Linked DNA regions of Homo sapiens. The protein of the gene in region 1 interacts with the protein of each later gene in a pairwise test. Each region holds a gene or a part of one and is shown in the gene's direction. Other genes may lie near its edges.

Region 1 (7,405 bases):
ACTGGGAATTGGATACTGAATTTAGCAATGAGAAGGACCTTGACAAAAGTTGTTTTCATTCAGTGGTAAGAGACAAAGCCAGACTGGATTCCATTTAGGAAAAATGAGGAGAGCATTTTGTCTATAATCATAGACAAAATGATTAAGGTATGCATACAGCTTTACATTTTTAATTCATTGTTTCTTTTTCTATTTGGACAGTCAGTATGGAAATCTTTAGTAGAGAAGATACTGGCAACATTACAGAACATAATGTCCTTTGGGACATGAACTTCACTCAGCCTTTCATTATGACGATGCTAATCTACTTTGGTTATTTACATCACCCACTTTGCATTATAAAACAGTAATTTAGTGGTTACAATATTCTTATTTTTATTGATGATAAAGAGAAAGCCTTGCAAGTGACAGCTTTTTGGTGTAATAACTTGCATAGGCTCTGTAATTGATGAGTCCCTTATGAGAAGGGTCTGTTTTCACAGCATTCATTATACACATCATCAAGTTTGCACAACTAACACCAGGATGATGTACAGATCAGCATGTACGTATTATTCTGCCCATGTCCCTGCCTATGAAGAAGGAAACCAAATTTGTGGTTGCAGCTCTTTTACCCAATAACTCTCTGACCTTCCAGAAATTACTTAAAGTGTCTGAGCCTCAGGATTTTGGTATGATATATTAGGATAACAGTACCAGCTCTGCCTGTTTTACAGAGTAGATGACTGGCTAAAGTACTTTAACAGACATGCGAAACTCATATTTGCTATTGCTATCCTCACATCCCCCCTGTAGGATTTAGATGGTATTTAGTTTCCTCTGTGTCTTTCCCTTCCTCCCGTCTTCTTGCATTTATAGATATTTTTGCATGGTAACAACCTGAACAGTCTACACCAACTAATTCATCCTGAGATCCTGCCCTCTGAGTTTGGAGGAATGCTGCCTCCTTATGACATGGGGACATGGGCAAGAACACTGCTAGACCATGAATATGACGATGACAGCGAGTACAATGTAGACTCCTACAGCATGCCTGTGAAGGAAGTAGAGAAGGAACTCTCCCCAAAGTCCATGAAGAGGTATGCTGGAGGTAGACTGGGGAGTGGGCTGGGCCAGGGCAGGGAGAGGCATCCTGAGTCAAACTCAAAGCTTTCTGTTTTTCTGTATACATTTTTCTGGTGGGATTTTAAAACTCTTTATGCCCTATGATTGTATGTCTAAGAGTTTTGAGTCAAAGATAAAGTCATTTTCTTATAGTGAGAACATTTAAAATTTATTCTCTTAGCGGTTTTCAAATATACAATACATTATTATCATATATTTGAAAACTGTAGTAACCCTGATGTATGATAGATCTCCCAAACTTATTCTTCCTGTCTAATTGAAACTTTGTACTTTTTGATGAATATCTCCCTATCCACCCCCCCAAACCATCCTGCCTCATCCCAGTGCTTGGTAACCACCATTCTACTATCTATTTCTATGAGTTCGACTTTTTTTAGATTCCACATATAAGTGAAATCATGCAGTATTTTTCCATCACATTGTATTCCATAACTATATGCAATTATCTGTCAATTAAGGAAAAGATAAAGTAATTTGAGGTAACCTCAACTTAGTGTTGTTCCAAATTCACAGACAGTCTAGCAGGGCCCTTGGAAGTCACCAAATCTGGTGGTTTTCAAATTGTATCCTGAGAAACCAAAGGTTTTGAGGGGGTGCCTTAGGCCAAGTAGGTGGAGTAGAGAGAGTGCCCATTTCCACTGTTGTGGGAGCAACTCTCCTATAAGCAATTTATTGGATTTCTGTGTAAGATTTCTTTTGAAGAAAGCAACCACACACACCAGTTCAAACACTGTGTTCAAAGTTTCTGGTCCTTTTTCAATATCTCTGCCAAGTCTTTGTCTAAAGGTCTAAACATTACTGGTACAAAACATTGTATTTCACTTCAGTTTTAATCTTTATAGAGTTCATTGTTGAGTCAGAGTCCAAATACCTGCTTTGACTCTCACAGCACTTTTATGCCTTTTATCTTTCAATCAATAGTCTGGGGAGTTGTCAGACATTGCACAAATGCATACCTGGCTCTGAGTTTGCATTCTGTCACAAACAAGTAGATGTGTAATTCTCAGACTTCCCAGGCAACCACAGCTCAGGGTCCATTTGGATAACAGTAACAAATATTACTTCTCCAGTTCATTTCACATTCACAGAAGTATGGGCACCGTAGCCCCTGCAAGTCTCCCCTCACCTAGCTCAGGGAGGATACAAGGACAATGAACGGGTCATGCCAATGTCTGGCATCCTTCTCTGATGAAAGCCTTAAGGCCCTTTGCCCATAGCTCTGACTCATGGAGTAATGTGCCTGTTCTTTAAGGATGGTCTTCTTTTTTTTTTTTTTTTTTTTTTTTTTTTTTTGAGATGAGTCTAGCTCTGTCTCCCAGGCTAGAGTGCAATGGCGCGATCATGATTCACTGCAACCTCCACCTCCCTAGTTCAAGGGATTCTCCTGCCTCAGCCTCTGGAGTAGCTGGGATTACAGGCTCCCAACACTGCACCCAGCTAATTTTTGTACTTTTAGTGGGACAGGGTTTCACCATCTTGTCCAGGCTAGTGTCAAACTCCTGACCTCATGATCCACCTGCCTCGGCCTCCAAAATACTGGGATTACAGGAGTGAGCCATTGCGCCTGGCCAGGATGGTCTCTTTTATGCTGCTGCCTCTGTTGTGATTGTTGTTAGTATGTGTGTGCATTGATTTCCTCTCTCCAGGCTGCTGCACAACTCCTTGGAGAGAACGGAAAGGCCAGAAATTTTCCCTGCTCTAATTTTCCACTAGTTAGCAAGCTTATATTTAAACCAACTTTAGGCTTCTTAACTCCCTTCTTTTAGAACAGAACTTCTCAAGATCTCTGCTCTCCTAAGGGGTTCATGGATGGGCTCTCAAAGGATTCTGTTAAGTGCTAAAAGTTGTATGCAAAATTTTGTGTGCGTAAGTATGAATGTACTATATGTATATGTCATGCATATATTTTCTGGGGAGAAGTCATATATTTCATCAAATTATTTGAAAGTTTTTAAAAACAAAAGTGGTTAAAAGCAACTCCCCCTAAAATAGTTTTCTTCTAATAAAATAATCCTAATGATAACAGTTGTTATAATCTATCATTTACTAGGTACTTTTCATGAAGTAGGTGTCTTTTTTTTACATTAATTTATAAATCCTCACAACAACCGTGTTAAACAGATACTGCATCCTCAACGTTAGGTAGTCTATATATAGTGGAGCAGAGGGCTCCACTGCATGAGATGTGGAGTCTTTCACACCACTGACATAAAGCCTGCCTACCCTTCGTGGCACAGAGGCCCTTTCTCAGAACTGAACTACATAAGGATTTGGAGGCAGCTGTCATCGGTGTCCACTAGTGTTCTTCTTTGTCAGCTAATGAGGCCCTTTTTCTTCAGCCATTCTGCCTGAGGCATGATTCCTCATGTGGCCCATCACGTGAGCACATTTTTCTCTGTATCTTCTACACATCACCTGCACTCTGCTCAGCTGCACCCACCCCCTAAAAATTATTTAACTGTTCTTGTTGATTCCAGCCTTACCTGCTCCCCTACTCCCAATTTATTATCCACATGGCAATCCAAAAATCTTTTTAAAATATGAATCAGACCATGTCACATCTTGGCTTTATTTTTATTTTTATTTTTGTTTTTTTGAGGCAGGTTCTCTTTGTGTTGCCCAGGCTGGAGCGCAGTGGCGTGATCATGGCTCACTGCAGCCTCCAACTCCCTGGACTCAAGCAATGCTACCACCTCAGCTCCACAAGTAACTGGGACTACAAGTGCCTGTCACCATGACTAGTTAATTTTTTATTTTTATTTTTTTGTAGAGACCAGGTCTCACTATGTTGCCCAGACTGGTCTCAAACTCCTGGCCTCAAGTGATCCACCTGCCTCAGCCTCTCAAAGCACTGGGATTACAGGTGTGAGCCACCAGGCAGGCCTTAGCTTTATATTTTTAATGACTGCTATTTATACAATGAATACAATCACCTCCTTATCATGGCTTACAAGATGCTACCTGATCTGACCCTGCCTCCCTCTCTCCTCCAGGTGTATCCTGTCTGCTTCCTCTTCCCCTGCTTTTCAGACACATTAGTCTTCTCTTTTTGCCCTTGTCACCGCCACCTGGAATGTTCTTTTCCTTCATCTTCAAATGGGTGGTCCCAATCAAAGGTCAGCTCCTCGAAAGAGTCTTTTGATCTTTGTCACCCACCTGGTCTTAGTCAGTTCTGTTTCCTCTTCATTCTGGTCACTCCCTGTCCATCACCCTTCTTTATTTTATTCTCTTCATAACACTTTTAGCCTTTGAAATTGCTGATTTTGTTTAATTTTATATCTGCACCCCACCCCAAAGTAAGCTTCAAGGAGACCATATTGTCTATGTTTACCTTATTCTCTGAATCCCCAGTGCCTGGAGAAGGTCCTGGAAAAACAGAGGGTGCTCAGGAAATACCAGTTGAATGCATGGAGGAGTGCTCTGCTGCCCATCAGTGGCCCCCTTTAAGTGCAGTATTCATAACTGAATAGGGAACATCTAACCTGGTATTGGCACTTGCATTTAAGTTGCAGAGTTCTGGCTTTGCAGGATAGACCTCACTGGCTTCTTTGGGTTGCTGTTGTTGTCACTGTTGCTATTGTTCAAGCAGCCAAAACTGACTGGTATGGGGGTTCCTAAAACTGGAAAGTCTCTTTACTTACCAATCCATATCCTCCTATTGTTTAGGTTTGTCCTCCAATCACATTATTTTAATTGATTAAGGCCCATCTTGTTAGATATAGCCTAGTCTATCCACCTTTTGTATCCTGATTCTTTTCTCCAATTAAATAGACCATTTTCTCCCCTACACACTTTGCTTGTAGCCCATTAGTGGCCCCAGTCCTGAGTTTCCTGCTGGTGTCATGGGCTGATTAGAGTTTTAGGCATTGTTTGGTGTACGTTTGGTATCATATGAAACATTTATGATTCTATGGAAAACTGAAAAATGAGATTAAGAAAGGTGTTGCACTTGATTCTCATGTTCTCTATGTCAGGGAATGGCAGTTCGCCATCCAGGACAAGAGAAGATTGCTCCTATGTTCCACACTGATTCCCCTTGGCCCTTTTCTTTTTGTAGTTTTATGATATCTTTAGATTAAGAGGGAGAAAATAATTCCATCACTAAAGAGTTGTGGATAATTCTTCTTTTGGGTAAATGTAGCTAGACATGCAAAAAGATGACTTGTCTTTTTGTATTAATTTCTGGAGGAGAAGCATAGTCATGTGTAAATATGCAAAGTTCACTAGACTAAGTATTTTAGAACTGGAGAGTGTCTTTTACCTTATGCCGCCAATGCCTAAGATAGTGCCTGGCACATAACAGTAGTGAGTAAAGTAACCATACCTATTTCATGATACGCACTTCTGATTATTGAATATTGAATATATTATTATTGAATAAGGTTAAGCATTTATTATTGCTTTGTGCCAAACCCTGTTCCAATGCTCTATGTATGTTGATTCATTTGCTTCTTGAAGCAAGTAATAAAGTAGTAGTATCCCCATTTTATTGATAGAGAGACTGAGAAACAGGAAAGGTAAGTGACTTCCACATGTTGCATAACTACAAAGTAGCAATGCTAATATCTGTACATAGGCAATAGTATTCCATGAGCCATTTCATTAACCATATGCCAGAATTTGTGCCGGGGTTTATGGATGCATTGTTGCATCTGATACTCATTATAACTTTATGATGTGGGTATTATTTTTCCCATCTTAAACAATAAAGAACAAAATCTTAGGAAGTTTAGTCTTCCCATGATCACACAGCTAGTAAACTGCTGTTATTAGCAACTGGAGTTATGATCTACTTCTGTCCGAAATCTAGTTTCTTAAACACTATGTATTGTAGATGCATGAGAAATGAGTATTGGATATCTAAATCTAAATTACTAGTTTTCAAGAAAGAAAGAAAAGTTATTCATTGTGAAAACAATAGAAGCTGCATAGAAACCCCTGAGATGGGCTGGGCACAGTGGCCCATGCCTGTAATCCCAGCACTTTGGGAGGCCAAAGCGGGTGGATCACTTGAGGTCAGGAGTTTGAGACCAGCCTGGTCAACATGGTGAAACCTCATTTCTACTAAACATACAAAAATTAGCCAGGCATGGTGGTGCACGCTTGTAATCCTGGCTACTTGGGGGAGGTGGGAGCATCAGTTGAACCCGGGAGGCGGAGGTTGCGGTGAGCCGAGATGGTGCCACTGCACTCCAGCCTGGGTGACACAGTGAGTCTTTGCCTCAAACAAAACAAAACCGAAAAAAAAAAACCCAGAAACCTCTGAGATGTATGAGTTAATGATAGCTCCCTCTGCTGTGGCTAGAATAAATCAATTCATTAATACTTCTGATCCTGCACAAATAATCCTGTTCTGTCATAAAAGAGACTAAAAAAAAATTGGACTAAAATAACTATACACTTGGGACAACTAAATACCAAAAAGAAAAAGAATTAATCACAAATTGTTTCTGACTCACTTTTGTTCTGTGATTGAGGCATTGTTTCACATATGGAATCAGCATTCATCATCCAACAATCCTCATATCTGTAGTGCATACTAAAAGCAAACTAGAAACTTAATCCCAGCTTGAATAATACACTGTAATTTAAAATATTTTGTTAAAAATGTCATATTCTCTAATATTGTTTTCAAAAACAGTCAGGAAACACACAGACTTAGAATGTGTATATGTGAGCATGTCTGTATAATGTGTAATAGTATATTAGGGCAAATGCTTAACTATTGTGCCTTGTGCAGTCTGAAGAGCTTTGGTATGTACTTATGGAATATTATTAGGATATACCTCAATATTTATATATTTAATTTTATGAAAAATTTAAAATTTATTTTCTATAAAGAAAACAGAATTGCTTTCTTTATTATCCTCATTACTCTTCATTTTGAGTTCTTAATACTGAAGTTCTTTCAATTTGGAAATTATTTACTGGCTAGAAGTCAAGACATGAAGAACTTACTCTTTTCCAAGCCCTATGATGCATGTTGTATTCACAATAAGGAAAGAAACTGATAAAGTCCCTGCTTATGGAACTTGCAGTCTAGTGCATATCAGTTGTCAGGTTAATACTTTAGCACAGGACATTAAATGAGCCTCTTTCTCTTTGAACATGAATTCATCTGAGAGCCAATTTGCTTGGTTGGGTCTTACCTAAAAACAAAGTTAGAAGTCTAATTACTTAGTCTTTTGTGCAATTGTCTCCTTTGTTAAAAAGTATTTTATTCATGTACTTTAAATAAAGATGATTATGTATTATTGCATTTAAAAGTGACACAAAATCT
Region 2 (8,260 bases), on another chromosome or scaffold:
ACTGAGAGAATGAAAGAATAAGATTGTATAACCCAAATAGGGAGATAGGAAATGGTTTACTGGTTCCTTCCCCCTCCAGTCGTGGGGGATTTTTTTAAAAAAAAACTAGTGACCAAAAATAAGACTAAAATATCTGGGAAGTTCAGAGACAACCTGTCACTGAAAAACCTCCTGTAATCTTTCATTCAATCAGAGGGTATTCTTTTTAAGGCCACATATAGCCTGATCATAGCCCCTGCCTCATTCTCCATCGAAAACATTCTTGGATGTGTTCTAAATAAGCAAAGGAAAGTATATTTATTGATAAGACACCAGACACCCAGCTGCCAGGCAAAACTAATAAGGGACACCCTGGGGCTGTATAAACATAGCAAAAGAACTGATATTAACAATTCTGTACTTGGCAGACAGTCCAGACTTCTGGGTCTGCTTCTAAGGCCATATGCTTAAGTCTTTATTTAGTTATAAAGATCTGAGTGGGTGATAGCTGGGGAGGTGGTAGTGGAATACACTATAGGTTGTACATAGAATGGTGTGAGCTTGTCTCTTAGATTTCCCTCACTCTTTCAGAACCTCACATCTTGCTGTTCCGGCGCCCACTACCCAAGAAACCAAAGAAATGAAGCTGGCAAGCTACTTTTCAGCCTCAAGCTTTACACAGCTGTCCTTACTTCCTAACATCTTTCTGATAACATTATTATGTTGCCTTCTTGTTTCTCACTTTGATATTTAAAAGATGTTCAATACACTGTTTGAATGTGCTGGTAACTGCTTTGCTTCTTGAGTAGAGCCACCACCACCATAGCCCAGCCAGATGAGTGCTCTGTGGACCCACAGCCTAAGCTGAGTGTGACCCCAGAAGCCACGATGTGCTCTGTATCCAGAACACACTTGGCAGATGGAGGAAGCATCTGAGTTTGAGACCATGGCTGTTACAGGGATCATGTAAACTTGCTGTTTTTGTTTTTTCCTGCCGGGTGTTGTATGTGTGGTGACTTGCGGATTTATGTTTCAGTGTACTGGAAACTTTCCATTTTATTCAAGAAATCTGTTCATGTTAAAAGCCTTGATTAAAGAGGAAGTTTTTATAATCTAGTGCTGTAATTGTACGGGTTTTTTCCCCCTCACTCAGGGTGAGCATCATCAATATCATGGTTCTAATTATATGCCCTTCAGTTTGATAATGAAGCTCAGCTCTTTGCTGATAATGAGGTTTAACATTGAGATAACTGGTTTTTAATCTACTTTAAGCAGACTTGCTGTCAAACATCTACTGAAATATATTTCACTCTAACTACTAGCCTGAGGTAGAGGTTATATAGGGACAACTTCATCTCATCCAAACAAATGAACTGCTTCCTACAGTCGGGGTGCTGCCTTTAACATAGTCCCAATATTTGAATGGCACACATGGATAAAAGGATGCTGTCAGTCAGGGGCTGCTTGTGTGTCCCAATTCCTAATAGGAATAATAGGCATATCTATGACCTATTCACTGTGCCCCTTGGTTGGGGAAGGTTTTCAGCTGTTCTTAACTTGGCTTGGGCGTTGGAATCACCTGGGGAGCTTTACAAGTACTGATGCCTGCCTGAGTCATTCTTAAGGATTCTTAATTGGTCTGGAGTGTGGACTGGGGGTAAAGATTTCAGGCATCTTATGCAGGTAGGTAAAGAACTAAGCTTTGAGAAAACAGGTGCAAAATGTAGCTGTTTAAGAAAACATTCCAGGCCACACGTGGTGGCTCACACCTGTAATCCCAGCATTTTGGGAGGCTAAGGAGGGCAGATCACTTGAGGTCAGGAGTTCGAGACCAGCCTGGCCAACATGGTGAAACTCCCGTCTCTATTAAAAATACAAAAATTAGGCTGGGTGCAGTGGCTCATGCCTGTAATCCCAGCACTTTGGGAGGCTGAGGTGGGTGGATCACCTGAGGTCAGAAGTTTGAAACCAGCCTGGCCAACATGGTGAAACCCCATCTCTACTAAAACAAAATTAGCCGGGCGTGGTGGCACACGCCTGTAATCCCAGCTACTCCGGAGGCTGAGGCAGGAGAATCACTTGAACCTGGGAGGCAGAGGTTGCAGTGAGCTGAGATCACGCTATTGCACTTCAGCTTGGGCAACAAGAGTGAAACTCTGTCTCAAAAAAATAAAAATAAATTAGCCGGGCGTGGTGTGTGCCTGTAATCCCTGCTACTCAGGAGGCTGAGGTGAGAGGATCGCTTGAACCCGAGAGGCAGAGGTGAAAGTGAGCCAAGATCACACCACTGCACTCAGCCTGGGCGACAGAAGCTGTGTCTCAATTTAAAAAAAAAACATTCCACAGAATAATAACTTCCCCTCTAGTCTAACAAAACAGTAGTACTAAGTGGCCGGGCGTCGTGGCTCACGCCTGTAATCACAGCACTTTGGGAGGCCGAGGCTGGCGGATCATGAGGTCAGGAGATCGAGACCATCCTGGCTAACATGGTGAAACCCTGTCTCTACTAAAAATACAAAAAAATTAGCTGGGCAAGGCGGTGGGCGCCTGTAGTCCCAGCTACTCGGGAGGCTAAGGCAGGAGAATGGCGTGAACTCGGGAGGCGGAGCTTGCAGTGAGCCGAGATTGCGCCACTGCACTCCAGCCTAGGCGACAGAGCCAGACTCCGCCTCAAAAAAAAAAGAAAAAAAAATACTAGTACTAAGTAAGGATATTAATCTCCCCCATTTTTCCTGTCTTCCATCCACTTATTCCTAAAATAGCAGGCATCAACATCGGGAAAATTCATTAGAAATGCAAATTATTGGGCAACAACCTAGACCTACTGAATCCTAAACTCAGGATTGGGCACAGCAATGTTTTAACAAGCTCTCCAGCTGATTCTGATGTACACTTAAGCTTGAGAATCCACTAGGAAAATACTGGAACAGTCTTGGTATTCTGTTTTGGGAGGGGATCAAATATCACCTGTATTGCTAATAAAGATATTGGAACATGTGGTTTACTAGGCAAGTGGAATTCTTGTTTTGCCCTTTTTTTTTTTTTCAAAGAGCTGACTTTTTATAATTGAAAGAAATGAGGGCCAAGTACGGGGGCTCACACCTGTAATCCCAATACTTTGGGAGGCCAAGGCAGGGAATCACTTGAGCCCAGGAGTTCAAGACCAGCCTGCGCAACATGACCAAACTCCGTCTCTACTAAAAATACAAAAATTAGCCAGGCATGGTGGGGCGCCCCTGTGGTCCCAGTTACTCTGGAGTCTGAGATGGGAGGATCACTTGAGCCCAGGAGGTCGAGGCTGCAGTGAACGGTGCTTGCGCCACTGCACTCGAGCCTGGGCAACAGAGAGACCCTGGTTCAAAAAAAAAAAAGGGAGGGGGGGCTTATTACTTAAAAGAATGGTCTAGACACCTGATCACCTGGGTCCACCATTCACTGTGTTTTGTGGTTGTGTGGCATCCCTTCACCTTTCTGAGCCTGTTCCTCATCTGTAAAATGAGCATGATGTGTATCTTACAGGGTATTTTTTTTCTTTTTGATGGAGCCTCGTTCTGTCGCCCAGGCTGGAGTGCAGTGACACAATCTCGGCTCACTGCAAGCTGCGCCTCCCGGGTTCACGCCATTCTCCTGCCTCAGCCTCCTGAGTAGCTGGGACTACAGGCTCCCGCCACCACGCCCGGCTAATTTTTTGTGTTTTTAGTAGAGACGGGGTTTCTCCATGTTGATCAGGCTGGTCTCCAGCTCCTGACCTCAGGTGATCCGCCCGCCTCGGCCTCCCAAAGTGCTGGGATTACAGGCGTGAGTCACCGCGCCCGGCCTTTTTTTCTTTTTTTCAATTGAGAGAACTCAAGCAATCCTCCCTCCTCAGACTCCCAAAGTGCTGCGCCCGACCAAGGGTTTTGAAGAGTAAAATTTGGCAAGGTGTGGTTTACCAGTCCTACAAAGAATGAATTCGGCCCGGCGCGGTGGCTCACGCCTGTAATCACAGCACTTTGGGAGGCCGAGGCGGGCGGATCACGAGGTCAGGAGATCGAGACCATGCTGGCTAACACAGTGAAACCCCGTCTCTACTAAAAAAAAAATGAAAATAAAAAAATTTTTAAAAAAAAGCCGGGCATGGTGGCGGGCGCCTGTAGTCCCAGCTACTCGGGAGGCTGAGGCAGGAGAATGGCGTGAACCCGGGAGGCGGAGCTTGCAGTGAGCCGAGATCGCGCCACTGCACTCCAGCCTGGGTGACAGAGGGAGACTCCGTCTCAAAAAAACAAAGAATGAATTCGGGCCCTTACCATTCAAAATGTAGTCCATAGAGCAGTGGGATCACCATCACATGGGAACTAGCTAAATGCAGATCTCAGGCCCCACCCAAACCTACTGAATCAATCTGCATATGAAAAGATCCCCAGATTATTGTTGGAAAAAAGTTTAAGATGTACTTTTAGAACAAAGGCAACTGAAATGGGGGTAAGCTCGGATGATGTGAGGATCCAGAGTAAACATGTAAGGCACTCCCTATTCGCTGCCTCATTTGCACCTACAAGACCAATTACTGGGAAAGGTCATTTGAACTAAGCACCATCTGGAGCAAGGTGGAGGAAGAGAGGGTTTTTGGACTCTTTCTTGTCAAAGAGATTTAAGTAATTCGTTTTGTCTACTATACTAGAGATAAATTAAGGTTCCACACATCAAAAGCTCACCTACTCCAGGGTCTTCATATCCGACAGACAGTGGTAATAATCTTTCTCGGTGTCCCTCCAACTTCCTTCTGCTATAAATAAGATGCTTTCTCACTCCAGTAAAAGCCCTTAGCCTAGTGTTAGAGTCACGGTGAATGAAAACAGCTTAAACCATGGCTAACTGACCCATTAAACAAAACAAAACAAAGCAACACATGCATAACAATTATTTGAATCCAGCACCAGAAACTCCCCGAGGGCCTTACAGCACCTTTAACTACGGCTCCTTTCCCGCCCTAAACTCCCGAGGTCCCGCCCCCGACCGTGGGCTAAGGTCCGGCCCCCGTATTTCCGGGCGAGAAGTGACCACGTGGTTGTCGCCTATAACAATCCGGCCCTGCTCCCATCCACTGGCTAAAGCCTGAGAGCGACAGTTGAATACACCAATGGGACCCTGGAAGAGTCTAAGCGACAGCCAAAATCACCATTCAATGTCAGCTAGGTGCAAGGCGGGACTTTAAGTACGGAAGCTGCCCCGGGACATGAGGAAAGGAACAAGGGAAAGAGCCGGTGAAGGGGCAGAACAGGCAGGTGAGAGTCTAAGAGGGCTCAGTAATCTGAAGCTTGGTGGGAAGAAGGGATTCTGGGCTAGAAAGGGTGCAGAAGCCTGAAGTAGAAAGAGACGGGATTTTGGTCCGGGGTGGAGAGCGAATGCATTGAAAAGGGCCAAGGCCCAGGATAAGGTAGACATTTAAAGGGGTACGGATGCCCAAGGTAGAGCAGACACTTGAGGAGACCAGCTCAGCAAACGGAAGACACTTAAAGTGGTAGGTTCTCAAGAGAGAAGAAGTTTTTAAGACTAGAGCTAAGCAAGACATTTAAAAGGACATGGGTTGGGATTTGGGAACACGTTTATTCCAGAGGCAGGAACAAAGGAGTCGCTTGTCAAGGATCTGGTTAGAGAAGACTAGGGTCTTCCTCGAAGGAAGCACGCGCACGCCTGCTCTCCCCCATTGTCTTTTCTGGCTTCTCCAGGTTCCCTCGACCCAGGACCCCCTGTTCCCAGGCTATGGCCCCCAGTGCCCTGTAGACCTGGCAGGCCCCCCGTGCTTGCGACCCCTATTTGGGGGTCTGGGTGGCTACTGGAGGGCCTTGCAGAGGGGCAGAGAAGGCAGGACCATGACATCTAGGGCCTCTGAACTTTCTCCGGGGCGCAGCGTGACGGCTGGCATCATCATTGTTGGAGATGAGATCCTTAAGGTGTGTCTGGGACAGAAAAGGGGGGAGGGCGCTGCGTTCTCCTGTCCTTAAGGGCCTGCTGCACATCCCTCCATGGAAGGAGGTGAAACAGGGTGGGAGCCTCTTTGCTGCAGTAGGATCCTGGAGTGAATCCAGCATATTGGAGGAAAATTAACCCTCATTCTTTCAATTACTCTACTGAAAAACTTGTAGCAAAGTCCCTACAATTTTTCAACCTGAGAGAGCTGATTGAAAAAAAGAAAAATAAAAAGGTCATTGCAATTTACCAAGCAGTATGGTAGAGGGCAGAGGAGCTACACAACAATGACAGGAAGCCCCTCGAGTAGAGGAGGTACAGGTGTGTGTATTGTATATTTAAGAGTTTTGGCCGGGTGCGGTGGCTCACGCATGTAATCCCAGCACTTTGGGAGGCCGAGGCGGGTGGATCACGAGTTCAGGAGTTCGAGACCAGCCTCAACATGGAGAAACCCCATCTCTACTAAAAATACAAAATTAGCCAGGCGTGGTGGTGCATGCCTGTAATCCCAGCTACTTGGCAGGCTGAGGCAGGAGAATTGCTTGAACGTGGGAGGCGGAGGTTGCAGTGAGCTGAGATCGTGCCATTGCACTCCAGCCTGGGCAACAAGAGCGAAACTCCGTCTCAAAAAAAAAAAAAAAAAAAAGAGTTTTACCCAGCCTTTTTGGAAATGACTCAAGGTACTCAGCGTAGTGGATAAGTGAGCTAGAAGGAAGGTACTAGAAGGGATGAATCCCCTCCGAATGATCAGGAAAGTCTTACTAGAGGACATAACAGATGACACGGGTTTTTTTGTTTTTGAGACAAGATTTTGCTCTGTCACCTAGGCTGGAGTGCAGTGGCACAGTCACAGCTCACTGAAGCCTCCATCTTCCAGGCTCAAGCAGTCCTCCTGCCTCAGCATCTGGAGTTGCTGTGACTACAGGTGTTAGCCGCCACACCTGGCTAATTTTTTTTTTTTTTTTTTTTTTTTTTTTTTTTTCAGAAACGGTCTCACTATGTTGCCCAGGCTGGTCTCAAACTCCTGGGCTCAAGCAATCCTCCCACACCTTGCTGGGATTATAGGCATGAACCACTGAGCTTGGCCAAATGTCAAGTTTTAATAATAATCTTTTTTAATATTCTTTGTAAATTTGTGTTTTTTTTGTTTTTTTTGTTTTTTTTTTTTAGATAGTCTCACTCTGTTGCCCAGGCTGGAGTGCATTGGTGGGATCTCAGCTGACTGCACCTCCACCTCTCGCGTTCAAGCAGTTCTCATGCCTCAGCCACCCGAGTAGTTGGGATTACAGGCATGAGCCACTGCACTCAGCCTTAATAGACCCTTTTTTTTTTTTTAGACAGAGTCTTGTTCTGTTGCCCAGGTTGGAGTGCAGTGGCGTGATCAATTTTGGCTCACTGCAACCTCCACCTCCCAGGTTCAAGCAATTCTCCTGTCTCAGCCTCCCAAGTGGCTGGGACTACAGGCATGTGCCACCACACCTGGCTAATTTTTGTATTTTTAGTAGGGACGGATGGGGTTTCGCCATGTTGGCCAGGCTGGTCTCGAACTCCTGACCTCAAGTGATCCACCCACCTCAGCCTCCCAAAATGTTGGGATTACAGGCGTGAGCCACCTCACCTGGCCCTGACCCCAATTTTTTTTTTTTTTTTTTTTTTTTTTGAGACAGAGTTTCACTTTTGTTGCCCAGGCTGGAGTGCAATGGCTCGATCTTGGCTCACCGTAACCTCCGCCTCCTGGGTTCAAGCGACTCTCCTGCCTCAGCTTCCCGAGTAGCTGGGATTACAAGCATGGGCCACCACGCCCGGTTAATTTTTGTATTTTTAGTAGAGACGGGGTTTCTCCATGTTGGTCAGGCTGGTCTCGAACTCCTGACCTCAGGTGATCCACCCGCTTCAGCCTCCCAAAGTGCTGGGAGGCATGAGCCACTGCGCCCGGCTGTGTGTGTGTGTGTGTGTGTGTGTGTGTGTGTGTGTGACGGAGTTTCGCTCCTGCTGCTCACGCTGGAGCGCAAATGGCGCAATCTCAGCTCACTGCAACCTCTGCCTCCTAGGTTCAGGCAATTATCTCACCTCAGTCTCCCGAGTAGCTGAGATTACAGGCACCCGCCACCACGCCTGGCTAATTTTTGTGGGGTTTTTGTTTGTTTGTTTTGAGACGGAGTCTCGCTCTGTCACCCAGGCTGGAGTGCAGTGGCGCGGTCTCGGCTCACTGCAAGCTCCGCCTCCCGGGTTCACGCCATTCTCCTGCCTCAGCCTCCCGAGTAGCTGGGACTACAGGCGCCCGCCACCACGACTGGCTAATTTTTTGTATTTTTAGTAGAGACAGAGTTTC
Region 3 (7,703 bases), on another chromosome or scaffold:
AAGAAGTTGAATCTCTGAATAGACCAATGACAGGCTCTGAAATTGTGGCAACGATCAATAGCTTACCAGTCAAAAAAAGTCCAGGACCAGATGCATTCACAGCCGAATTCTACCAGAGGTACAAGGAGGAGCTGGCACCATTCCTTCTGAAACTATTCCAATCAATAGAAAAAGAGGGAATCCTCCCTAACTCATTTTATGAGGCCAGCATCATCCTGATACCAAAGCCGGGCAGAGACACAACCAAAAAAGAGAATTTTAGACCAATATCCTTGATGAACATTGATGCAAAAATCCTCAATAAAATACTGGCAAACAGAATCCAGCAGCACATCAAAAAGCTTATCCACCATGATCAAGTGGGCTTCATCCCTGGGATGCAAGGTTGGTTCAACATTCGCAAATCAATAAATGTAACCCAGCATATAAACAGAACCAAAGACAAAAACCAAATGATTATCTCAATAGATGCAGAAACAGCCTCTAACAAAATTCAACAACACTTCATGCTAAAAACTCTCAATAAATTAGGTATTCATGGGACGTATCTCAAAATAATAAGAGCTATCTATGACAAACCCACAGCCAATATCATACTGAATGGGCAAAAACTGGAAGCATTCCCTTTGAAAACTGGCACAAGACAGGGATGCCCTCTCTCACCGCTCCTATTCAACATAGTGTTGGAAGTTCTGGCCAGGGCAATTAGGCAGGAGAAGGAAATGAAGGGTATTCAATTAGGAAAAGAGGAAGTCAAATTGTCCCTGTTTGCAGATGACATGATTGTATATCTAGAAAACCCCATTGTCTCAGCCCAAAATCTCCTTAAGCTGATAAGCAACTTCAGCAAAGTCTCAGGATACAACATCAATGTACAAAAATCACAAGCATTCTTATACACCAATAACAGACAAACAGAGAGCCAAATCATGAGTGAACTCCCATTCACAATTGCTTCAAAGAGAATAAAATACCTAGGAATCCAACTTACAAGGGATGTGAAGGACCTCTTCAAGGAGAACTACAAACCACTGCTCAAGGAAATAAAAGAGGATACAAACAAATGGAAGAACATTCCATGCTCATGGGTAGGAAGAATCAATATCATGAAAATGGCCATACTGCCCAAGGTAATTTACAGATTCAATGCCATCCCCATCAAGCTACCAATGACTTTCTTCACAGAATTGGAAAAAACTACTTTAAAGTTCATATGGAACCAAAAAAGAGCCCGCATTGCCAAGTCAATCCTAAGCCAAAAGAACAACGCCAGAGGCATCATGCTACCTGACTTCAAACTATACTACAAGGCTACAGTAACCAAAGCAGCATGGTACTGGTACCAAAACAGAGATATAGATCAATGGAACAGAACAGAGCCCTCAGAAATAATGCCACATATGTACAACCATCTGATCTTTGACAAACCTGACAAAAACAAGCAATGGGGAAAGGATTCCCTATTTAATAAATGGTACTGGGAAAACTGGCTAGCCATATGTAGAAAGCTGAAACTGGATCCCTTCCTTACACCTTATACAAAAATTAATTCAAGATGGATTAAAGACTTACATGTTAGACCTAAAACCATAAAAACCCTAGAAGAAAACCTAGGCAATACCATTCTGGACATAGGCATGGGCAAAGACTTCATGTCTAAAACACCAAAAGCAATGGCAACAAAAGCCAAAATTGACAAATGGGATCTAATTAAACTAAAGAGCTTCTCCACAGCAAAAGAAACTACCATCAGAGTGAACACGCAACCTACAAAATGGGAGAAAATTTTCACAACCTACTCATCTGACAAAGGGCTAATATCCAGAATCTACAATGAACTCAAACAAATTTACAAGAAAAAAACAAACAACCCCATCAAAAAGTGGGCAAAGGATATGAACAGACACTTCTCAAAAGAAGACATTTATGCAGCCAAAAAACACATGAAAAAATGCTCACCATCACTGGCCATCAGAGAAATGCAAATCAAAACCACAATGAGTTACCATCTCACACCAGTTAGAATGGCAATCATTAAAAAGTCAGGAAACGAGGTGCTGGAGAGGATGTGGAGAAATAGGAACACTTTTACACTTTTGGTGGGACTGTAAACTAGTTCAACATTGTGGAAGTCAGTGTGGCGATTCCTCAGGGATCTAGAACTAGAAATACCATTTGACCCAGCCATCCCATTACTGGGTATATACCCAAAGGATTATAAATCATGCTGCTATAAAGACACATGCACACGTATGTTTATTGCGGCACTATTCACAATAGCAAAGACTTGGAACCAACCCAAATGTCCAACAACGATAGACTGGATTAAGAAAACATGGCACATATACACCATGGAATACTATCCAGCCATAAAAAATGATGAGTTCATGTCCTTTGTAGGGACATGGATGAAACTGGAAACCATCATTCTCAGCAAACTATCGCAAGGACAAAAAACCAAACACCGCATGTTCTCACTCATAGGTGGGAACTGAACAATGAGAACACATGGACACAGGAAGGGGAACATCACACTCCAGGGACTGTTGTGGGGTGGGGGGAGGGGGGAGGGATAGCATTAGGAGATATACCTAGTGTTAAATGAGGAGTTAATGGGTGCAGCACACCAACATGGCACATGTATACATATGTAACAAACCTGCACATTGTGCACATATACCCTGAAACTTAAAGTGTAATAATAATAAAATTTAAAAAAAAGAAAGTAATGCAAAAACTGCAAAAAAAAAAAAAGAAAAAGAAAAGAAAATGGGCATAACACCTACTTCCTAAAGTTGTTGTGAAGCTTAAATTGGAATAAATTAGCTAACATACGTAAACACTTAGATATTGCCTGGCATATGATAGGTGCTCAATAAATGTTAATCTTATACCTCAGGTGAATTTGTGACTGGCCTTTTGCTTTCTTGGGAGGAGAGACACAGGCATTATAAATTTCACCTGTCCATGTGGTTTGTACTCTTCCTTTCTTCTGTTTAGCAAAATGCCCTTTTAAAAAGTCCCAACCTTGCTTCAGTTGAACTGATGGGCAAATGTGATTTCCCACACCTGAGCTAGGGGATCTAGGCTCTCAGACTGCCCTGAGAGCTGTGCTGCAGAGGCCTGGCCAGAACCCTCAGAGCAGCTCCGGACTCCTTCCTCTGTCACTCCTCCACATTCAACTAGAATCCTATGTCTCCCGAGTTGACCCTGTTGCAAATCTGTGCCCCTTTTCATTTGCATGGGCCCTGCCGAAATTCAGAAGCTTAGTTCTTCCCATGACTATAGGGGCCTCGGGCAGGTCTCTTGCTCTGTCAAGGTCAAAACCCCTACTTTCCTAAATTCAACCATTGATTCTCCATCTTCATCTTACTTGATCAGCCACACTTGACATAGTTGATCACTTCTCCCTTTAAACATCTTCACATGGCTTCTGGGACCTTTTGTTTTCCTCCTACCTCCCTGGCCACTCCTTTTCAGACTCCTTTGCTGGTTTGCTCTCATTTTTCCCTAACCTTTACATGTTGATATGCCAGAGCACCTCAAACCCTTAGACCTCATCTCTGCTACTCGTGCTCCCATGGTGATCTCATCTAGTCTCTGGTTTCAAACACAGAGTGATCACTCCTGTACTTGCTGTTTCCCTTTTCCTGGAGTTCTCTCTGCCTCCTGCAGGTAGGAAGTGATTCGAGATAAGAGAGGGAGAGAACTCTTCTGGCCAGGATAGAGGGTGATTCTGAGAAGGCTTCAAGGAAGAAGTGAGCATTTGAGCACGGCTACTTGAGGAAGGCTAGGCCATGGACATTAGGGTGCAGGCAGGAGCAGAGCAAACATGCTTGTAAAAGGAACAGCAATTATTCTGTTTTATATTTATATCAGCCCATGGTGGCCCCCACAGCAGAGTGGCTTGATCTCTCACCTCCTTCAGGTCTTTGTTTAAAGATTAACTTCTCCATGAGGCCTTCTATGAACATAACCTTTAAAAACATAAATCCCCTTCCTACTGGGACTCCCCCAGTTCCCACCCTGAGACCCCCTATCTCTCTTCTCGATTTTATTTCTCTCCATAGGATGTGTATCACCACCTGACTTACTAGCTATTTACTATATATTAGTTTATTTCTTCCCCATTAGAATGTAAACTTCCTGAGGGCAGGGATTTTGTCTGTTGAGTTCAGTTCTGTATCCCCAGCACCTAAAACAGTGCCTGTCCATAACAGGCATGTTAAACATTGTTGGACAGATGAATGAGTGAATGAAAAATGGTAGTACCTTTCCTCCTCCAGTCCATCCTACACAAAGAGGCAAGATTAATTTCCCTAAATGCGTGAGCATTAGGAAGTGGGAGGGATTGGAGGAGGAAATTATAATAAGGAATCCATAAATTACTTAAGCCCATAAAACAAAGGTAGGAAACATTCAAGATAAGAGACCTCTTCTGGCCAGGATAGAGGTTGGTTCTGAGAAGGCTTCAAGGAATAGGCAGACATTTCAGCAAGGCTGCTGAGGAAGGATAGGCTGTGGAAATTAGGATGCAGGTAGGAGGATCACAGAGCAAACACTCCAAGGTGGGAAATGCAAGTGTGTGTAGAAGGAACAGCAAGTATTGTTGGGTTGGGCTGGCTTATGAAGTTGTGACGGGCTGAGGGAGAGACAGGACTGGAAAAGCACGTTGGGGTCAGGTTGCAGAGGTCCTTGACTGACAGAGAGGGGAGCTTGGTCTGTGGGGAATCTTCTGCTCTGTGTGGTCAGAGGCTGGTCTGACTCTCCGGCCTTGCCCCAGTCTTCCTATCCTTCATCCAGCCCCGGCTGGCTCGGTAAAAACGGCGCGAATCTCGCTCTCCCTGGGTAACTAGGGTCCCCACTGCCTGGCTAGTGGTGCTTTTCGCGTCTTCACTGGCACCATTAATGAATGAAGTCTGGCTCCCACCCGCGGGGAAGGGAGGAGCCTCAACCTCGGGTCCTTTGCTCTCCTGCAGCACTCCTGCCCGGGTCCCGCCTCGGGGTCGCCAGGCCCTGAACCCCAACGCCGGCATTAGTCGCGCCTGCGCACGGCCCTGTGGAGCCGCGGAGGCAAGGGACGGAGAACGGGGCGGAGGCGGAGTCAGGGCGCCCGCGCGTGGGCCCCGCCCCCTTATGTCGGGTATAAAGCCCCTCCCGCTCACAGTTTCCCTAGTCCTCGAAGGCTCGGAAGCCCGTCACCATGTCGTGCGAGTCGTCTATGGTTCTCGGGTACTGGGATATTCGTGGGGTGAGTGCCGTCTCAACGGTAGAGCCGCTCGGTCAAAGAGACTGACGCGGAGAGGGCGGGTCTCTGGGTCCGCGATCTCCAGCAGGAGCAGCTCTACGCGGGAGCCTTTTCGAGCTGCCGAGCCACGGATGTCGACCCCTGCCCAGCCTCTGGGATCGCGGGCCCTGTGGGGAGGGGCGGAGGAGACCACGCCGGAGCCGGGCCTAGGGGCCGCTTAACCACCGCCCCGGCAGGACGCAGGGACTCGGCAGCCCCGGGCCGGGGAACGTTAGCGGGCGGGGGTTGGGAATGGGTGGGAGCTGCGCAGTCGCTGAACCGCTGTCTTCCCCAGCTGGCGCACGCCATCCGCCTGCTCCTGGAGTTCACGGATACCTCTTATGAGGAGAAACGGTACACGTGCGGGGAAGGTAATGCCGCTCCGCGTGCCCGTGCAGCCAAGCTGGCCCTCCACCTGCCCTGGTCTTCTTACGCCCAGAGGGTGGTGGCGTCGCGCCAAGGCCGGGTGGGACGTTTGCCCCAATCTGGGTGAATAGAGACACATCCTTTATCTGGAACTGGGGGTTCTCTTTTTAACATAGCCCAAACCCGTCTTAATGCTTAACCAAATAGGGCTCAGAGGCTCAATGGTTATGCTTTTGGGGCCTGGGAATTTGAGGTATTGGGACCAAGTCATTTCTTTAGATCTTTTGCTCTTGTCAGGTGGGGTATTAAGGAGGTTGGGTCCCACTTAATTCCGTCTCTTACAGCTCCTGACTATGATCGAAGCCAATGGCTGGATGTGAAATTCAAGCTAGACCTGGACTTTCCTAATGTAAGTGGCTTTAGTAGAGGTGGCGGGCAGAAGGGAAAGCCTTCAAGTATATCCATCCTTGCCTCTCTCCTGCCTGGTACAGAAGGATGCAAAATAGGGGATCTTAACCCGGATAGAATAAATAGAATTCAGGGGTCCTTGAACTGGATGGATATGTATTTTCATTCCCATTAACCACTAGCAAAAGTTATTTCCTTTTATTGTGAAGAGAGACAATAAGTGACATTGGTTATTAGCCATGTCTGTCACTTTGTCACTAGTAGAAATCAGGTATTTTCTTTTTTGTGTGTTTCTTGTTCTTTTGTTTTGAGACAGTGTCTCACTCTGTCGCTCAGGCTGGAGTGCAGTGGCGCAATCACAGCTCACTGCAGCCTCAACCTCCCAGGCTCAAGCAGTCCTCCCACCTCAGCCTCCCAAGGAGCTGGGACTACAGGCACACACCACTATGCCCAGCTAATTTTTGTATTTTTGTAAGAGACGGGGTTTTGCCATGTTACCCAGGCTGATCCTGAACTTCTGGGCTCAAACAGTCCTCCCACCTCGGCCTTCCAAAGTGTTGGGATTACAGGCATGAGCCACTGTGCCCAGCCTGAAATCAGGTAGTTTCATATTCTATAACATGCGTTGCAGATATTTTAAGTGATATTTATATACATGTAAGTAAATATATACATATAATGTTATTTACTTTGAGATTATGTTAGTCATTACATCTGCTTGCTATTTAATGCACTAATAGGCACATGTTACTCTTATTTGAATTTTTAAAAATATTTTTTGATTGTGTAAATTATCTATTTTGCTTCATGCATTTAACAACTTTATTCTGAGAAAAGGTCCATGGCATGCACATACACTCACACATACACACACCAATTTAAGAACCCCTGTCTAGAATCTTGTGGACCCAGTTGCTACCTTCTACTTATTTTCTTTTTTCTCCTAACACAGCATCTTCTCACTCTTGTTCACTGCCCTGCAAGTGTTCTTTTCCCCTGGAGAGAGAGGTAGGGAATCAAGAGAGAGGCAGGTTGTTCATTTGTCCTGTCCTTTTCCTTTCAGCTGCCCTACCTCCTGGATGGGAAGAACAAGATCACCCAGAGCAATGCCATCTTGCGCTACATCGCTCGCAAGCACAACATGTGTGAGTGGGGTAGGGCTGGTGAGGGACCCCAGGCTGGTAGTTTGTCTGAGAGTGGATGATGCCAAGGGTGATTTGTTGTCATTTGGCCTACAGGTGGTGAGACTGAAGAAGAAAAGATTCGAGTGGACATCATAGAGAACCAAGTAATGGATTTCCGCACACAACTGATAAGGCTCTGTTACAGCTCTGACCACGTGAGTTTCCTTAGCACACATCTGCTGAATGGAGTATCAGAAAAAGGGGTATTTAGGAACCCAAGGGTTATCTCTGTTCCATTCTGCTGCTGCTACCTTCCCACCAATCCAGATTGTTAGAATAAGAAACAGAACTTATATTTTTTGGTTTGTTTTGTCATGTAATTCTGGTGCTGGTGCCTCTTCTTTCTAAACTCCTCTTTCCCCACCCTGCCATCCTCAAGTGAAGGCAATGAGAACCCACCTAGAGAAGGGGCTACTAAGTGTCCATCACTGGCCTGTGCCCTGATTAACTACAAAGAT
Region 4 (7,741 bases), on another chromosome or scaffold:
GTGCTCGGTGCCAGAGAGGCTTCCGGAGGCAGGCAGGGCTGCGTGCAGCCTGGAAGGATGAGCCAGGCCAGGCGGGAAACGGAAGTCCAGGTAGAAGGGAGGAGCCGAATTGGGGTACACTCCATATGGGCTCAGGCAGGTCAGCCTGTGGAATGAATAGAGGCCAACATGCAGGCCAGCCCGGAATGCGGCAGGAGTGACAGTGGCTTTCCGTTTCTGGGAATTCTGCCAGTACCTACAGTGGTGCCTTTTGACTTGGCTTACCTTTTTTCTCGACATGCAGGCAGCGTCTATCCCAGACTACCGGGGCCCTAATGGAGTGTGGACACTGCTTCAGAAAGGGAGAAGCGTTAGGTAAGCGGGCCAGGCATGGCCTCCCACATAGGCTGGGCAGCGGCAGCACGGGCCTGAGCTCCAGCTCTCCTCACCTTGCCTTCCTTTCTGCCTGGCAGTGCTGCCGACCTGAGCGAGGCCGAGCCAACCCTCACCCACATGAGCATCACCCGTCTGCATGAGCAGAAGCTGGTAAGAGCCCTGGGTGGCTGGTACACTTGCCAGGGACCAGGCAGAGCACCTTGGTGCCCAGTGGGCAACTAACTGCACCCGCCCTCTGTCTGCCAGTTGACTCCCATGATGAGCACCCACCAAGCGGGTTAGGCCGCGGGTTTGATCCTCCTGTGCTTGACTCTCCAGGACAGAAGGGGAGCTCCCCCTCTGAACCATCCCATCCGCAGCCAGCCTCAGCCTCAGAGCTGCTGGTGGCCTTTCCCCTTTGTGATTCCCTTGCATTTTTCTGTGGACCTCAGAAGCCATCCTAGTCACAGGGGAGGCTTATAGGACATCTCTGGGGACCTTCTGCTGAACACCCTCAACCAATGGGGTGTAGTGGTTGATCTGCCTAGGTCCCCAGGGACCTGAAATGTCATGACCCAAGAGAGCATGGATCTGGGGCAGAGTGGCCCTTGCCAAACCCCGAGCCACTTCCCAACCTTGCCGGGACGGTGCAACCTCTTGCCCTCCCAGCCACTCCAGGTGCATCAGGGCTGGAGGAAGGACAGCCCCTCCCCACCACAGGCCCTCTTGACTCCTGGTGGTTGGACCTGTTGTGTGTTTTACTTTCTAAGGCTCTCTGGGGGGACGGAGCTGCCCCTGGTTTTGGGAGCCATCGGCGGGGCTCAGAACAGCCTCGCTGTGGCCGGGTACTGACCTCCCCACCACCACTGGCAGCCATCCCTCCCCTTGCCACCCGTTCTGCCTTCCAGGTGCAGCATGTGGTGTCTCAGAACTGTGACGGGCTCCACCTGAGGAGTGGGCTGCCGCGCACGGCCATCTCCGAGCTCCACGGGAACATGTACATTGAAGTGAGCAGTCCTGCAGGGACCCAGGGTCTCCATGGGCAGGCGGGTCCCACTCACTGTGCCCTCTTGCCTCTAGGTCTGTACCTCCTGCGTTCCCAACAGGGAGTACGTGCGGGTGTTCGATGTGACGGAGCGCACTGCCCTCCACAGACACCAGACAGGCCGGACCTGCCACAAGTGTGGGACCCAGCTGCGGGACACCATTGTGCACTTTGGGGAGAGGGGGACGTTGGGGCAGCCTTTGAACTGGGAAGCGGCGACCGAGGCTGCCAGCAGAGCAGACACCATCCTGTGTCTAGGGTCCAGCCTGAAGGTACGTGCCGATGACACAATGAGTGAACCGAGCCCCTGCCCGCCCGAGGGTGTCCAGCTCTGCGGCCCAGCACTGTACAGACTTGTCCCTTGTGTGTGTGCGGTGTCTGTCTGTCTGCTTCCACAGGTTCTAAAGAAGTACCCACGCCTCTGGTGCATGACCAAGCCCCCTAGCCGGCGGCCGAAGCTTTACATCGTGAACCTGCAGGTAACTCGGGTGCTGAGAGCCACGTCCTTAGATCTGGGTCTTAGAACGCACAGCCAGAGACACCCCACACCCATGCACCAGGGCGGTCTGATAGGGCCCCCGTGGGTGCTCAGGGAGCACCGACTGAGCCCGTAGGGGCCAAGGCTGACAGGCCACCGGGAAGGGTTGGGCTGCTGTTACTCTCACTCGGCTTTCCCTGTCCTCAGTGGACCCCGAAGGATGACTGGGCTGCCCTGAAGCTACATGGGAAGTGTGATGACGTCATGCGGCTCCTCATGGCCGAGCTGGGCTTGGAGATCCCCGCCTATAGCAGGTGAGTGAGCCGCTGCAGCAGCCTGCTTCCCCGCACCTCTGTGTGCTGGGCCTTGTCTGTCTTCTCTCGTGAGCTGAGTGTGGAGGAAGCTCTGAGGTGTTTGCAGTGGTGCCTGAGGCATGACTGAAGCGTGGTGGTCTCCAGAGGGCCTGACCTCGGTGGTTGGCGGAGACCCTGCGTGTGCCACTCCTGCCCTGGCTGATGTGGCACACACAATCCCCGCGGGGAGAGGGATTCTGCCCGCGTGCTCCTGCTCCAGGCCTCCCCGTGGAGCTCTCCGAGATGCCTGGTGGGAAGCATCTGGAGGGGACGAGCACTCGGCAGCTCTGGTCAGACAGAATCTGTGTGCTTGGTTTTGGGAGTTGGCGTACTTTGGGAAAGCTTAAACAAACTGTGCCTTAATACAGAATTTGTGATAATTTAGACTTGGTGTATGTATTGAGTAAAAAGTTTACACTCTCTTTCTCTGTGAATTTTCAGGGTCTTATAGGGGAAATCAATAACTTCTTTTAATCAAAGGGTTCAAGAAATTAAGGATCCCTTCACCTTCTGGGCCTGGCACTTCTTGTATGTTATGTGTGTGGTGTTCTGTGATGTGGGCTATCGTGTACTGTATTTTTTTTTTACATTAACTTAGCTCATTTTCCTTATCAGTGCGTATCTGTATCTTAAGTTATGATCTGTGGTTCTGCATCTCCGTCAGACACATGCTTTCTTCACGGGGTCGTCTGTAGGCCACGCCTCCCTAGTCAGCTGGGAAGGGGGAGAGGGTCTGGTCCACCTGCCCCAGCGGTACAAGTGGAAGGTGGGGCCCAGAGTTGCTAGTGACTCATCCCTGGAGACGGAGGCAGCCCTGGGGCCACTGCTGCCCCACCCTGTGTGTGCACGCCGCTCAGTGGTGGACAAGGACACGGAGTTTTGAGGAGACCGAGCTAGTGTGGGTGCCGACCTTTGAGTCACCACCTAAGAGGTGACCTCTCCCACATCCGTTCTGCAGCTTGGTAACAATGAAGCTGCCGCCAACCAGAGCCCCGCCGCAGTTGACACGGGAGGGAAGGGGATGGGAAGGCAGGGACCGCAGACAGCTTTCCCGAGCTGGGGCAGGTGTGACTGCGAGAGGCTCCCAGGCCCGCCTGATGCCGCTTTCCCTTTTTGGCAGGTGGCAGGATCCCATTTTCTCACTGGCGACTCCCCTGCGTGCTGGTGAAGAAGGCAGCCACAGTCGGAAGTCGCTGTGCAGAAGCAGAGAGGAGGCCCCGCCTGGGGACCGGGGTGCACCGCTTAGCTCGGCCCCCATCCTAGGGGGCTGGTTTGGCAGGGGCTGCACAAAACGCACAAAAAGGAAGAAAGTGACGTAATCACGTGCTCGATGAAGAACAGTTGGCACTTTGCAGATGGCCAGTGTCACGGTGAAGGCTGGGTTGCCCCCACGGGTCTAGGGAGAACGAACTCTTTGGGGATGACATTTTCACCGTGACATTTTTAGCCATTTGTCCTTGAGGAAGCCCCTTGCACTGCTGCGGTTGTACCCTGATACGGCCTGGCCATCGAGGACACCTGCCCATCCGGCCTCTGTGTCAAGAGGTGGCAGCCGCACCTTTCTGTGAGAACGGAACTCGGGTTATTTCAGCCCCGGCCTGCAGAGTGGAAGCGCCCAGCGGCCTTTCCTCGCTCACCAGGCCAGTCTCAGGGCCTCACCGTATTTCTACTACTACTTAATGAAAAAGTGTGAACTTTATAGAATCCTCTCTGTACTGGATGTGCGGCAGAGGGGTGGCTCCGAGCCTCGGCTCTATGCAGACCTTTTTATTTCTATTAAACGTTTCTGCACTGGCTTCCGGTGTCCCCGAGTGGTCGGCGCGGGCTCCCCGGGCTCAGGTCTGCCGCCTGGCAGCTCGGTCGTGGCTTAAAACTCCCTTGGTTGGACAGGGGACAACTGTAGATTATTGTGCCAAAAAATAAGAAAAAAAACTCCCCTGGTTGGGACAGCGCCCCGTGGAGGTTCCCGGAGGTGGCGGCGGTGGGACGGTCCCCACGCCGCACTGCCCCGCCAGCCGAGCGCCAGGTGTGGGCGGTGCGGAGAGGCCAGGTGTGGGTCGGGGGGCGGGGCTCGGAAAGCGCGGCACACGCCATTGGCTGTGCGTTTGGAGGGGGCGGGACTCTGTCAGGGGCTCACGCCATTGGCCGTGCGCGGAGGTGCGGTGGGGCGCGGCCTTCGGGGGGTGGGGCTCGGGGCGGAGGGCGGGAGGCGGGGCGGGGGAGGCGGGGGCGGGGCTCGGGCCGAGCGGCGCACGCCATTGGCCGTGCGCAGCGGGTGAGGCCCGCGTGACGGCCGCTGAGCGTGCGCCTGGCGGGGCGGGCGGCGGCGCTCGGAGTCGCCGGGAGCTGCCAGGCTGTCCGCGCCGCCGCTGCGGGGCCATGATCCGGAACGGGCGCGGGGCTGCAGGCGGCGCAGAGCAGCCGGGCCCGGGGGGCAGGCGCGCCGTGAGGGTGTGGTGCGATGGCTGGTGAGCGCGGGGCCGGGGCGGGCCGCGGGGGCGCCGGGGCCGGCTTCCTTCCGGGGCGCCGCGCCAGCCGTTGCCCGGGGACCGGGCCCGCGTTCTGGGTGGCGTCCTCGTCCGGCATGGGCCGGGGCTGGCAGGCTGCGGGGCTCGCCTGCCGGGAGGGTCGGGCTGCAGAGGCTCCGCGCCCTGCCGTGGGCGACCCCGTCTACCTCTGGCGGAGGCCCCGCCCGGTCACGCCGACCTCTCCGGTGCAGCCACCGCGCTGAGATCTGGAGCCACGGCCTCCCTGCTTCTCCGTAACCACCAGCAACCAGCTTGCCCGGCTCCGGTCCAGGGGTTCCCCTGGCCTCCGGGCGAGCGTCCCTGTAGGTGGGCATCGGGTGCGACCTGCCTGTCCGGGACCCGCGGTGAAGCCCGCGGGCTCCCGGGTCCTCCTCCGCGGGGCTAGAATGCGATCGGTCTTCCCTGGCCAGTCAGAGGGCATTGTTTTAAGAAAAGTTTCGGGTTGTCAACAAGTGAAAGGAAGACGACCGTTACTGATAATTTGCTACCTCTGACCCTTTCACGTGCCTGCCGGATGGAATCCAGGAAGCAAGCGCCTCTATCTGATTAGCCCTTCCCAGGAGAGCAAGCAGGGCCTTGTCTTCTGTGTCCGAGTCACCTCTGGGAAAAGGAATGTGGCTTTGTGTCAGTGGACTTTGACCTTGCCCTGACCAGGCCCCAGCCCCATTCCAGACTGTGCTCCCCTGGCCCAGCCTCTGCCCCCTCCTCCCCTCCAGCCTGTCCAGTGGGTACATGGGCCCGCCAGATTTTACCCAGCATGTCTGCCGGGCTCCGCGCACTGTGGCAGGGGTGCTGGGAGGAAGCAGTGGTGTGCAGTGGAGCAACTCTGTGCACTGTGTGGGCTGCCAGGGTCACACCTCTCCCTGGAGAGGCAGGGACAGCTTTGTCCACTTGAGGGGATGGGCCGCTGCTGTAAAGAAGTGGCGAAGAAGCCAGGGCAGCGAGGCCCAGTTGGTGGCAGGGCTGTGTAGCTTTGGGCTTGAGAGTTCACGTGTTAGCAGACCTAGATTTGTGAATGAAAACTCTCGAGCCAGGTGGCAAGGCAGTGGCTGTTCACCCTTAGCGTTAAGCCTGCTGAGCTTGAGGCCGTAAGGGAGGAGAGACAGGATTTTCAGGGCCAGTGATTCCCAGGGTTTTATTTTGTGGTTGGATTTGTTTTGGGTTAGCCCCAGGGACTGTTTGCTTGTCTCAAGGTAGTCTAGGATCCAACCCTACCCCAAGAGTTAACATCGGCTTATTTTAAAGTGACTGCCCAGGGCAGTTGATATTTGGTGAGGGGATAGGACACGTGGCCCTGCAGCTTTCAGTGGGCTCCAGTCTGTCCTGCACCCACCAGTCCTCTAGACCCAGCCAGGCCTTGACATCTCTGCCCCTGCCACCCTTTCTAGATCTGGCACAGGGGTCCCACCGTCAGGCCCAGGAGCCAGTGGGGTGGAGAGCTGAGCACCTACATCCTCCGAATCCCAGTCCCAGGGCTCCCAGCAGCAGCTTCTCAGAGCGCTTCCTAAGGAGTCCTCAGAGGAGCAAAGCTCTGCCCCTAACCCACAGGGACACCTGGTCCCCACCCTTGGCACAGGGACCACCCACTCTCTCTGTCTCCACAGCTATGACATGGTGCATTACGGCCACTCCAACCAGCTGCGCCAGGCACGGGCCATGGGTGACTACCTCATCGTAGGCGTGCACACCGATGGTAAGCACAGATGGCCTCGCCCACCCGCGGCCCCCCAGCCCTCCTGTGGGTTGCGACTGTTGACTGAAAGCCTGCAGGCCTGGGGCCACCTTGCCAGGGCACAGCTGTAGGGGAGGGCACTGTAGGCTCACCCAGCCCAGCCCCAGCTGAGGATGGCCTAATGCCTTTCCCATCTTGCATTTCCTGTCCCAGCTAAAGAGAAGGGGCACCTGCTCCCCACCACTGCCAGCGAGGCTCCCAAGCCTTCAGGGGCTGAGCACCTGCTCGTCAGAAGGAATCTCTGCCTTTGCCTGAGACCCTCGCAGGGAAGAGAGCCACCCAGTTGGCCAGCACTAGTGGGCTAAGGGCCAGGGTAGAGAGACAGCCTGCCCCCACCGGCCCTCTTGTGTGGCTACAGCTGGGTGCTGGGAAGGGGCCTCCTACTGGAGGGGCCGGGTGGGCTGGGGTCCCCAGTCTCCCCGTTGTCCTTTTCCTAGAGGAGATCGCCAAGCACAAGGGGCCCCCGGTGTTCACTCAGGAGGAGAGATACAAGATGGTGCAGGCCATCAAATGGGTGGACGAGGTGGTGCCAGCGGCTCCCTACGTCACTACACTAGAGACCCTGGACAAATACAACTGTGACTTCTGTGTTCACGGCAGTGAGTGGCGGGGCTGGGACCTGGGGGCCTGGGGACATCAGGTGGCTCAGGATCAGATCTGCTGGTGGGACATCCGGGAACAGGGGGCCTCCGCCCTTTGAGGATCTGAGACATTTCCGGGCCCCCACCTAGAAATGGGCACGCGGACACTAGGGCAGGCCAGGGGCCGAGAGGGTCCTGGGCTCTGAAGGTTCTGGTGGCTTTGGGTTAAGGATCCTTGTCCTTGTGTGTCACTGCTTAGATGACATCACCCTGACTGTAGATGGCCGGGACACCTATGAGGAAGTAAAGCAGGCTGGGAGGTACAGGTGAGTCTCCACCGCGGGCCTGGCCATCCAGGGAGCTGGACACGGGGCTCCCTCCTGGCTCGTGCTTTGCTATTTACCGGGAGCCCGTGAGGGGAGCGTCCAGGCCCTGGGCCATGTTCCTCACGCCCAGGACTGGGAACTCGAGGGATGGAGGTGCCATTGTGGGGTGGCCTGGAGGCCCTTGCCATTTGGTGCTGCAGACCCATGGCCCCAGGGCTCCAAAGGCACAGCTTTGTGAGGTGGCAGCTGTTGAGCTCGGGGGACGTGGCTGGCACTGCTGGGGAGCTGGCACTATATCTGAATTACCAGACGTCAGGGACATGAGGCCAGTGGCTCCCGCATGA

Evidence for each region.
Region 2: the proteins of CLVS2 (region 1) and FLAD1 interact in binary tests that used the Homo sapiens proteins (3 or more experiments, as listed by UniProt).
Region 3: the proteins of CLVS2 (region 1) and GSTM3 interact in binary tests that used the Homo sapiens proteins (3 or more experiments, as listed by UniProt).
Region 4: the proteins of CLVS2 (region 1) and PCYT2 interact in binary tests that used the Homo sapiens proteins (3 or more experiments, as listed by UniProt).

The regions. Positions count from the first base shown.
Region 1 is NC_000006.12:123,054,948-123,062,352, forward strand, and holds part of CLVS2 (clavesin-2), read left to right. Parts: intron 1-858; coding exon 859-1,079; intron 1,080-7,405. UniProt on the Homo sapiens protein: Required for normal morphology of late endosomes and/or lysosomes in neurons. Binds phosphatidylinositol 3,5-bisphosphate (PtdIns(3,5)P2).
Region 2 is NC_000001.11:154,978,155-154,986,414, forward strand, and holds the start of FLAD1 (FAD synthase), read left to right. Parts: upstream 1-5,189; 5' UTR 5,190-5,540; coding exon 5,541-5,912; intron 5,913-8,260. Other genes in the region: CKS1B (cyclin-dependent kinases regulatory subunit 1), read left to right, coding at 571-623. UniProt on the Homo sapiens protein: Catalyzes the adenylation of flavin mononucleotide (FMN) to form flavin adenine dinucleotide (FAD) coenzyme.
Region 3 is NC_000001.11:109,737,788-109,745,490, reverse strand, and holds the start of GSTM3 (glutathione S-transferase Mu 3), read left to right. Parts: upstream 1-4,452; 5' UTR 4,453-4,538; intron 4,539-4,979; 5' UTR 4,980-5,203; coding exon 5,204-5,251; intron 5,252-5,582; coding exon 5,583-5,658; intron 5,659-5,997; coding exon 5,998-6,062; intron 6,063-7,124; coding exon 7,125-7,206; intron 7,207-7,299; coding exon 7,300-7,400; intron 7,401-7,703. UniProt on the Homo sapiens protein: Conjugation of reduced glutathione to a wide number of exogenous and endogenous hydrophobic electrophiles. May govern uptake and detoxification of both endogenous compounds and xenobiotics at the testis and brain blood barriers.
Region 4 is NC_000017.11:81,908,224-81,915,964, reverse strand, and holds the start of PCYT2 (ethanolamine-phosphate cytidylyltransferase), read left to right. Parts: upstream 1-4,565; 5' UTR 4,566-4,609; coding exon 4,610-4,698; intron 4,699-4,789; exon of another isoform or gene 4,790-5,064; intron 5,065-6,362; coding exon 6,363-6,451; intron 6,452-6,643; exon of another isoform or gene 6,644-6,927; coding exon 6,928-7,089; intron 7,090-7,330; coding exon 7,331-7,397; intron 7,398-7,741. Other genes in the region: SIRT7 (NAD-dependent protein deacetylase sirtuin-7), read left to right, coding at 284-354, 453-525, 1,263-1,361, 1,435-1,671, 1,798-1,878, 2,085-2,191, 3,351-3,549. UniProt on the Homo sapiens protein: Ethanolamine-phosphate cytidylyltransferase that catalyzes the second step in the synthesis of phosphatidylethanolamine (PE) from ethanolamine via the CDP-ethanolamine pathway.